2 linked regions of the Homo sapiens genome follow. The protein of the gene in region 1 purifies or fractionates together with the protein of each later gene. This does not show direct contact. Each region holds a gene or a part of one and is shown in the gene's direction. Other genes may lie near its edges.

The links.
Region 2: the proteins of COA1 (region 1) and COA6 purify together in Homo sapiens (affinity purification with western blotting, with the first as the bait; one study listed by BioGRID). This does not show direct contact.

Annotation. Positions count from the first base shown.
Region 1 is NC_000007.14:43,638,681-43,642,765, reverse strand, and holds the end of COA1 (cytochrome c oxidase assembly factor 1 homolog), read left to right. Parts: intron 1-2,116; coding exon 2,117-2,193; intron 2,194-3,084; coding exon 3,085-3,184; 3' UTR 3,185-3,509; downstream 3,510-4,085. UniProt on the Homo sapiens protein: Component of the MITRAC (mitochondrial translation regulation assembly intermediate of cytochrome c oxidase complex) complex, that regulates cytochrome c oxidase assembly.
Region 2 is NC_000001.11:234,379,873-234,383,690, forward strand, and holds part of COA6 (cytochrome c oxidase assembly factor 6 homolog), read left to right. Parts: intron 1-3,818. UniProt on the Homo sapiens protein: Involved in the maturation of the mitochondrial respiratory chain complex IV subunit MT-CO2/COX2. Thereby, may regulate early steps of complex IV assembly.

The DNA of each region.
Region 1 (4,085 bases):
TTGCTTTACCAGAACTCCTGCTTTAATCTTTGGCAAGGTCTGGCTGGTGAAGGAACCAACCTGTAAAGTGTCACATCTACCCATGGAAGCACAGCTGCCCACAGTTCAGACATTGGCCCCTCAGAGTTTGCTCTTCTTCAGAATCCTTCTTGCTTCTGCCCATTTCTTTCTCCTTCCTTTTTAAATTTTTTTTTAAAGCATCCAGAGATGCTCAGTGTATACTCTGTTGCTTAATTCTATAATTTCCAGAGAAAAGCTGTAGCTTGACTCAAACAGTGGGACCCTGAAAATTTGTTCTTTTTTAAAATTTTTTCTTGAGATGGAACCTTGCTCTGTTACCCAGGCTGGAGTACAGTGGTGTGATCTTGGCACACTGCAGCCTCCACCTCCCAGGTTCAAGCGATTCTCCTGCCTCACTCTCCTGAGTAGCTGGGACTATAGGTGTGCGCCACCATGCCCGGCTAAGTGTTTGTATTTCTAGTAGAGATGGGGTTTTGCCATATTGCCCAGCTGATCTCGAACTCCTGGCCTCAAGTGATCCACCTGCCTCAGCCTCCCAAAGTGCTGGGATTACAGGCGGAAGCCACCATACCCGGCCAAAGATTTGTTCTTGAAGTGTGACTAGGTGACTGCCTATTCACCTGAGTTATGGAGCCATGTTCCAAATCTTGTGCCTTCCTTCAGGTGTGTTTGGAAAGCACAAATGTGTACCTCAGTAGTTTCTTCTCTTGGTGGCAACTTGGAATGGGTGGGATACTCCCCGCCCCAATTCCCTCCCCTGCCCCTGCCCCGGGAGGTATCTTTGGCCATCACCGAGGACACAGGAAGGCACTCTGGGAGATGCCTGTCTCATGATGGGCTTCCTTATTAACTGTGCCTGTGTCTCCTTCGCGAGGCTCATACCTTCTTTGGTTTTCATGAGAAACCAAAAATATTGCATTCACTGTTTTTTTTCTCAATCGGAGTGTGATCAACTGCTTACGGGCTCTCAGGCTGACTCCCTGAGCATGGGCATGGCAGCACCTGGCAGCATCCCTGTGGTACGAGCCCAGCCTGTGGTGCTGGGGATGAAGGAGAAACTGAGAACTCTGTGTTGTCTTTCTCAGACAAGCCTTCATGTATTGTATTTTCTTTAAAGCCTGTTCTTTAGGGTCCAGGTCAAAATATGTACCAATTTCCTGGCAATAGGTCCCTCTTTAAAACAGTGAATTTTTTTTGGTATTTTATTGTGAAAAATTTCAAACGTACAAAAAAGACAAAAGAATTTATACTGTGAGCACCTATAGCTGGTACCTGGATTCTACAATTGGATTTTGCTCTGTTTCCATGAATCTGTATTGTTATTTTGTTGGATTACAAAGTAATTTTCAAACATCATACACATAAGCACATATATCATTAAGTAGAGTTTAATATTTGTTATGGTTCCTGGTTTTTTTTTTTTTTTTTGAGGTAAAATTTACATTCTGTGAAAGGCACAAATCCAAGCGTCCTATCTGATGAGTTTTAACAAATACACCCAGTTGTGTCACTCAAGCCGTTATCTAGATGTAGATTGTTCCCAGCACCTGAATTCCCTCGTGCCCTACCCAATGGGTCCCTTCTCACATCTTCCAGCTCCACCAGAGGCAGTCACTTTTCTTTTTTTTAAAATGATGTTTGAAAATTACTTTGTAATCCATCAAAATAACAACAGGTTTCCAGGACAGTTTAGCCTGTTCTAGAATTTAACATAAATACTTGTATACTCCTCCTGTGTAAAGCCCTTTGGCTTGGTGTGTTTTTGATATTCATCGATGTTGCTCCGTGTATCAGGAGTTTGCTCCTTTTTAACAGTGGACTTTTGAGCGATCATTGGAAGTACCCAGAGCATTGACATAGGAGTCCTCCTTGCCAAATGGAAAGACTGCCATTGACCTTACCAGCCAACCAAAGAGGGGCAGGACATTTGGAAAATCAAGTGGATTCTCCAGCTGGGCTGTTAGAAAAGAACTCACTTCTGTGGAGAATCACTGGATTTTATAGGCTTAGCTCTAGAAAGCATCATTTTGTCATCTTCTGAAATGACAATAATTATCCAATTACATCTCTCCTTTCTGTCATTTTACACCCACAGTTGAAGATTCCTGTCTCTGGATCCAAATCAGAGGGCCTTCTCTACGTCCACTCATCCAGAGGTGGCCCCTTTCAGAGGTATCCTGGGAAGGTGACGGCAGTGGGGGAGCGGGAGGAAGACTTCCTGATGAAAGCAACCCCAACTCCGTTTTCATTTGTTGTTAAATTACTGTGGGCATAGGAAGAATTATTTTTCAAGCTTGAAGCTGAAAGCTTCGTGGCCTGGGCAGCAAGCCAGTACTGCGGCTCTTAGCTGAGTCCAGTTTATCCATACAGTCTACTGAATTGCCCTCTCCTTATGCCGTTGAATTTGTAAAACTTTCCAGTTATAGTGATCTGGGTCTATCATAATTTGATGCTATGTTACAGCTTCTCACTTGACTGCCTCAATTGTTATAAATGAATAAAGGGCATGGACTCTTGTTCCAGAATTTATTCATCACATTCTTTGCATAAGCTCTCCACCCCTTAATTGGCTTTGCTTGTCTGGTTGCCAATAGCTACATCCACTCACTTCCCCCACGGGAAGCCTCTCTCATAGATGTTTGCTGTTTAGCCAGGCTGTATTTTAATTCCCAAGGACAAAAGGAGCAGGAGGCCCCACCTAGCTCACCCTGGGCTCACTGACCTCTGAGCCTGGGATTAGTGTACAAGCTGGCTGGATTCCATGCCAGGAACTGAAGGTCACTGTGAATTAGGAAATGAGAAATAAACTGCTCCTTCTTCCTGATGTCCCTTCCATTCGCCTGTCAGTCATTGTTAAGCCTGCCTTGAAGTCGAAGCTGGTTAAATAATGAGAGCCCATGGTAGAATGTTAAAAATTGTGTTGACACAGCACTCGCACAAAATAATGTTTAAAAAAATTTAAGGCATTATTCAAAACAACTGCTTTCCGCGCCCCTTTTTTTGACTACGGCTGTTGCCTCAGCCTTCATAGATTAGAGATACTATACTTTTGGTTTCTCTCAGGTGGCACCTTGACGAGGTCTTTTTAGAGCTCAAGGATGGTCAGCAGATTCCTGTGTTCAAGCTCAGTGGGGAAAACGGTGATGAAGTGAAAAAGGAGTAGAGACGACCCAGAAGACCCAGCTTGCTTCTAGTCCATCCTTCCCTCATCTCTACCATATGGCCACTGGGGTGGTGGCCCATCTCAGTGACAGACACTCCTGCAACCCAGTTTTCCAGCCACCAGTGGGATGATGGTATGTGCCAGCACATGGTAATTTTGGTGTAATTCTAACTTGGGCACAACAAATGCTATTTGTCATTTTTAAACTGAATCCGAAAGAAACTCCTATTATAAATTTAAGATAATGTAATGTATTTGAAAGTGCTTTGTATAAAAAAGCACATGATAAAAGGAATCAGAATTAATAAAATGTTTGTTGATCTTTGCTAGTTCTCATTTCTTTCCTTTCTCTTCCTCTTCCTTTCCCCTGGAATTTTCAGTCCTCATTACAAAGCCTGAAGCTTAGTAGCACTGAAGGGATTTTTTCTAAATTATTGACCTGAGAATGATGAGGAAGACCACTGGTTTTTCACTCTACCTTGAATTCATGTTGTTAAGTAGCTTGTGGACATTCTCTATCACTTTGGAATATTTTGTTTGCTTTGCTTTTATTTATTTCTATTTCAGACACCAACCATCTGCCCAGTTGAAGATTTGCAAAATAATTGTTTTTATTCCAAACATTTTGAAAGCTTAGAAAATTTATATGTGTACATATACATATAAAGTTAACTTAGGAAAGTTAGTTTGAAGCTAACAGCATCTGGCTGGGTGTGGTGGCCCATGCCTGTAATCCCAGCAATTTGGGAGGCCAAGGCAGGCGGATCACCTGAGGTCAGGAGTTTGAGACCAGCCTGGCCAACATGGTGAAACCTCGTCTCTACTGAAAATACAAAAAATTAGCCAGGCGTGGTGGCGGGCGCCTGTAATCCCAGCTACCTGGGAGGCTGAGGTGGGAGAA
Region 2 (3,818 bases), on another chromosome or scaffold:
CCTGGTCTCTCCCTTGACAAGTGGCGATTATGGGGATTACAATTCAAGATGAGATTTGGGTGGGGACACAAAGCCTAACCATATCAGATGGTGACCTGCAAAGTTGTAGATGACTGTAACAAAGAAGGGAAGCAGGTAGTATAGTAAATTATTCCCATTGACTTCTGCAGCATTTGACAGTGATAGCCCGTTTCCCATTTGCACCCATTTTCTTCTGCACCACTGTTCTTTCTTAGTTCATAACTGAGTTATTTCTCAGCCTGCCCTTCACTATCGGTTCTTTGCTCCCTGTTCACCTGTGCTCTCTTTTCAAGTATTACCTTGTCAAAGTCCTACTCAATTGCCACAGAATAAAAGCTGAAAAGTTTTTCCAGAGATATGTGTGCATAAGGGTGGGGAGGCACACGGGAGGGCAAGTAAATGGAAATCTCTTTTGAGTGCATTCTGAATGAGATGCTTTGTTTTTGTTGCCTTTAATTTTCATTCAGTCTTGTGAGGTACTTTGTATCTGCTTTATACAATAGGAACTAAGGTTCAGAAAGGTAAAATAATTTGTCTTAGACCAGCCAACCAGTAAAGTAGTAGAGAGAGGATTTGAATGTCTATGATTTCAAAATTTGGATCTTTTACTTAGCTGATGTGACAGCCACGAAATAAAGATAAAAAATAGCACCACCAAATTGGGATTTAGATTGAGTAATTCTATCCCAAAACACCAAAAATACATGCTTATTACAAAATAAATATGCCATACAACTAATATGGTAGCTGTTACCAAAACAAATTAGTTCTCTCTCGTACTCACATATCTGTTTTATAGCACTCATCAGTATGATGTGTATAATGGTCCTATTGAAAGTCTTCTGGGATTATAGGCGTGAGCCACCACTCCCAAGGCGGGTGGATCACCTGAGGTCAGGAGGTCGGGACCAGCCTGGCCAACATGGCGAAACCCCATCTCTACTAAAAATACGAAAATTAGCCAGGCGCGGTGGCACGCGCCTGTAGTCCCACCTACTCGGGAGGCTGAGTCAGGAGAATCACTGGAACCTGGTAAGCAGAGGTTGCAGTGAGCCAAGATCACGCCACTGCACTCCAGCTTGGGTGACAGAGTAAGACTGTCTCAAAAATAAAATAAAATAAAAGGCTCCTATTGTTCCTAACTTAGGAGCAGGGATCAGGCCTATCATTCTAGCATCATCTAACAAAGTTCCACAAACAGAGCAACCAGATATCCAAGATCTTTGATCTTAATATCAAATTCATATATTGTCTTTTTTCTATAAAACTTTGAAATGTCTCAGAAATCCCAGTATTTTGGCATTCACACTACTGTCCTGGGTCTTATTCAGTGGTTTAGAGACCACTCGCATATGTGTATACAGTATTTCTCAATGAATCCTTGTTGATTCATTAGCCTTTTAGAGAAAGGACCGTGTGTTGAGGGTTTAGGCTGTTGGTTGAAAGAGAAGGTGATGGCTAGGGAGGAGAGCTTTCCAGGCAGAATGTGGTAATATGCAAAGGCATGGAATCAAGACGCGCAGGAAATGAGCATGGGGTAGCTCTGTAGGACAAACAGTTCAGGGACTGCTGGTGAATTCAGAGAGGATGGACAGGGGCGCAGGGATGAAGCCATCAGTGGCCTCGTTTGTCTTAGAAACCTTAAAGGCAATATGGATACCTTGAAAGATCTTCAAACAAGCAAGTGACCTGATCAAATTTGGGTTTCAGAAAGATTATACTCTGGCAGCCTGGGACAGGTGAATTAAGGATGGTTGAGCCTAGAAATAGAGAAGCCAGTGAAAGAGCTGTTACAGCAACCCAAGTGAGAAATGATGAGGGTTTGTGCTGTGGCAGTGAAGAAGGGAAAAGAGATGTAAGTGTCTAGGTAGATGTGATGCGTTCATTGAAATAGGTATTAGAGGAGAAACATGTTTGGAGAGGAGCAAAGTTCTGGACAAGTTGGGACTGCAACATCAGTAGGACCTCTAAATGGAGTTGTCTTAGGCAGTTGGAGATGTGACAGGACATGCAAACATCTATTAATTTGTCACAAAAATGTTAAGGGCAATGTCCACTTCTTCCTTTGGTATCCTTATATAACATCCATCCTAGCCCAATCAGCCTGAGACCACCAGGGATGAATGTATAGTCTGATTTGTGAATGCTTATAACCAGGAAGACCACACACCAGAGAACTGTGGGCATCTTACCAACAAAGAAAAAGAGAGTTATTAGAAGTTTAGGGGAAGAATGGAGTTTAGGTAAAATTTAAATGAAATGGTGTTTTGACAACCTCAGTACAAAGCATAGGTGTCGTCGTCAGCTCTGGATCGAAAAGTGGACCAGGGTTTTCTTTCTTTGAAGTTAAAAGATTGAGTGTCATGTTCATGTTGAGAAATGTTATTTGACATCCTGGAGCTGGGTTGGAGATCAAGGCTGCTTCTGTGTCAGGGCGCCGTAGATCTTCTAGACAAAAGTGGGATGTTTCCTTCTTACAGATCAGACTTCAAACAGCAAATTTCTGGTAGTTAATGATTTTAGAGAACAAGATTTCCCAATGAATAAGAAAGCAGTAATCACTCAAATAACGGATCTATTAGCACACTCCGTGGCTGTCGTACACCCTCGGGAGACATGTTTCCTTTCAGCTGACTTTGTGTGTGTCTGTTATCCTAGCTTGATTGATACAGCACAGGGCAGATTTTTACATTTGCAGTCCAAGATAATTTTTACTTACGAGCACCACTGAAATATTTAAGAATTAAATCCAAAGAAAGGCTTTTAACAAAAGAACTAGTGTTTTCTGGTCTGACAATGAAGATGAATTTAGAGTTGATAAGAAAAATGGTCCAGGCTCAGTGTGGTGGCTCACGCCTGCCAGCGCTTTGGGAGGCCAAGGCAGGTGGATCACTTGAGGTCAGGAGTTCGAGACCAGCCTGGCCAAGATGGCAAAACCCCATCACTACTAAAAATACAAAAAAAGTAGCCGGGCATGGTAGCAGATGCCTGTAATTGCAGCTACTTGGGAGGCTGAGGCCAGAGAATAGCTTGAACCTGGGAGGCGGACGTTGCAGTGAGCCGAGATTGCTCCACTGCACTCCAGCCTGGGTGACAGAGCGAGACTCTCTGTCAAGAAAGAAAGAGAGAGAGAGAGAGAAGGAAGGGAGGGAGGGAGGGAGGGAGGGAGGGAGGGAAGGGAATGGAAGGAAGGGAAGGGAAGTAAGAAAAATGGTCCAATGTGTTCTCATTTGAAGCCTTCTGACCTACCTGAGAGCTCTGTGGACTCTGAACTCGCCAGCAAGCCTGACCTGTGTGCACATGGGTCCATTTCTTGAGAAGGTTCCTGAGTTATTCAAATTCTCAGTATGGTCTGTAATCCAAAAAGGATTAGGATTCACTGGTCTGTACTCTCCTCAGAGACTTTTTCATCAAATGCCTCAATTCAAAATGGTTCTAGACAATGAGAACACATCACAGGAAAGGGAACATCACACACTGGGGCCTGTTGTGGGGTGGGGGGAGGGGGGGACAGATAGCATTAGGAGGTATACCTAATGTTAAATGGCGAGTTACTGGGTGCAGCACACCAACATGGCACATGTATACATATGTAACTAACCTGCACGTTGTGCACGTGTACCCTAAAACTTAAAGTATAATAAAAAAAAAAAGAAAAACATCATTCATAGTTACAGCTGACACACACACACACACACACACACAAAATGGTTCTAGAATATAAATCACTTAAATTTATGTTGAATAATATGTTACATTTAAATCTGTGCTTTTGCTTATCTAAGCTGCATAACTTG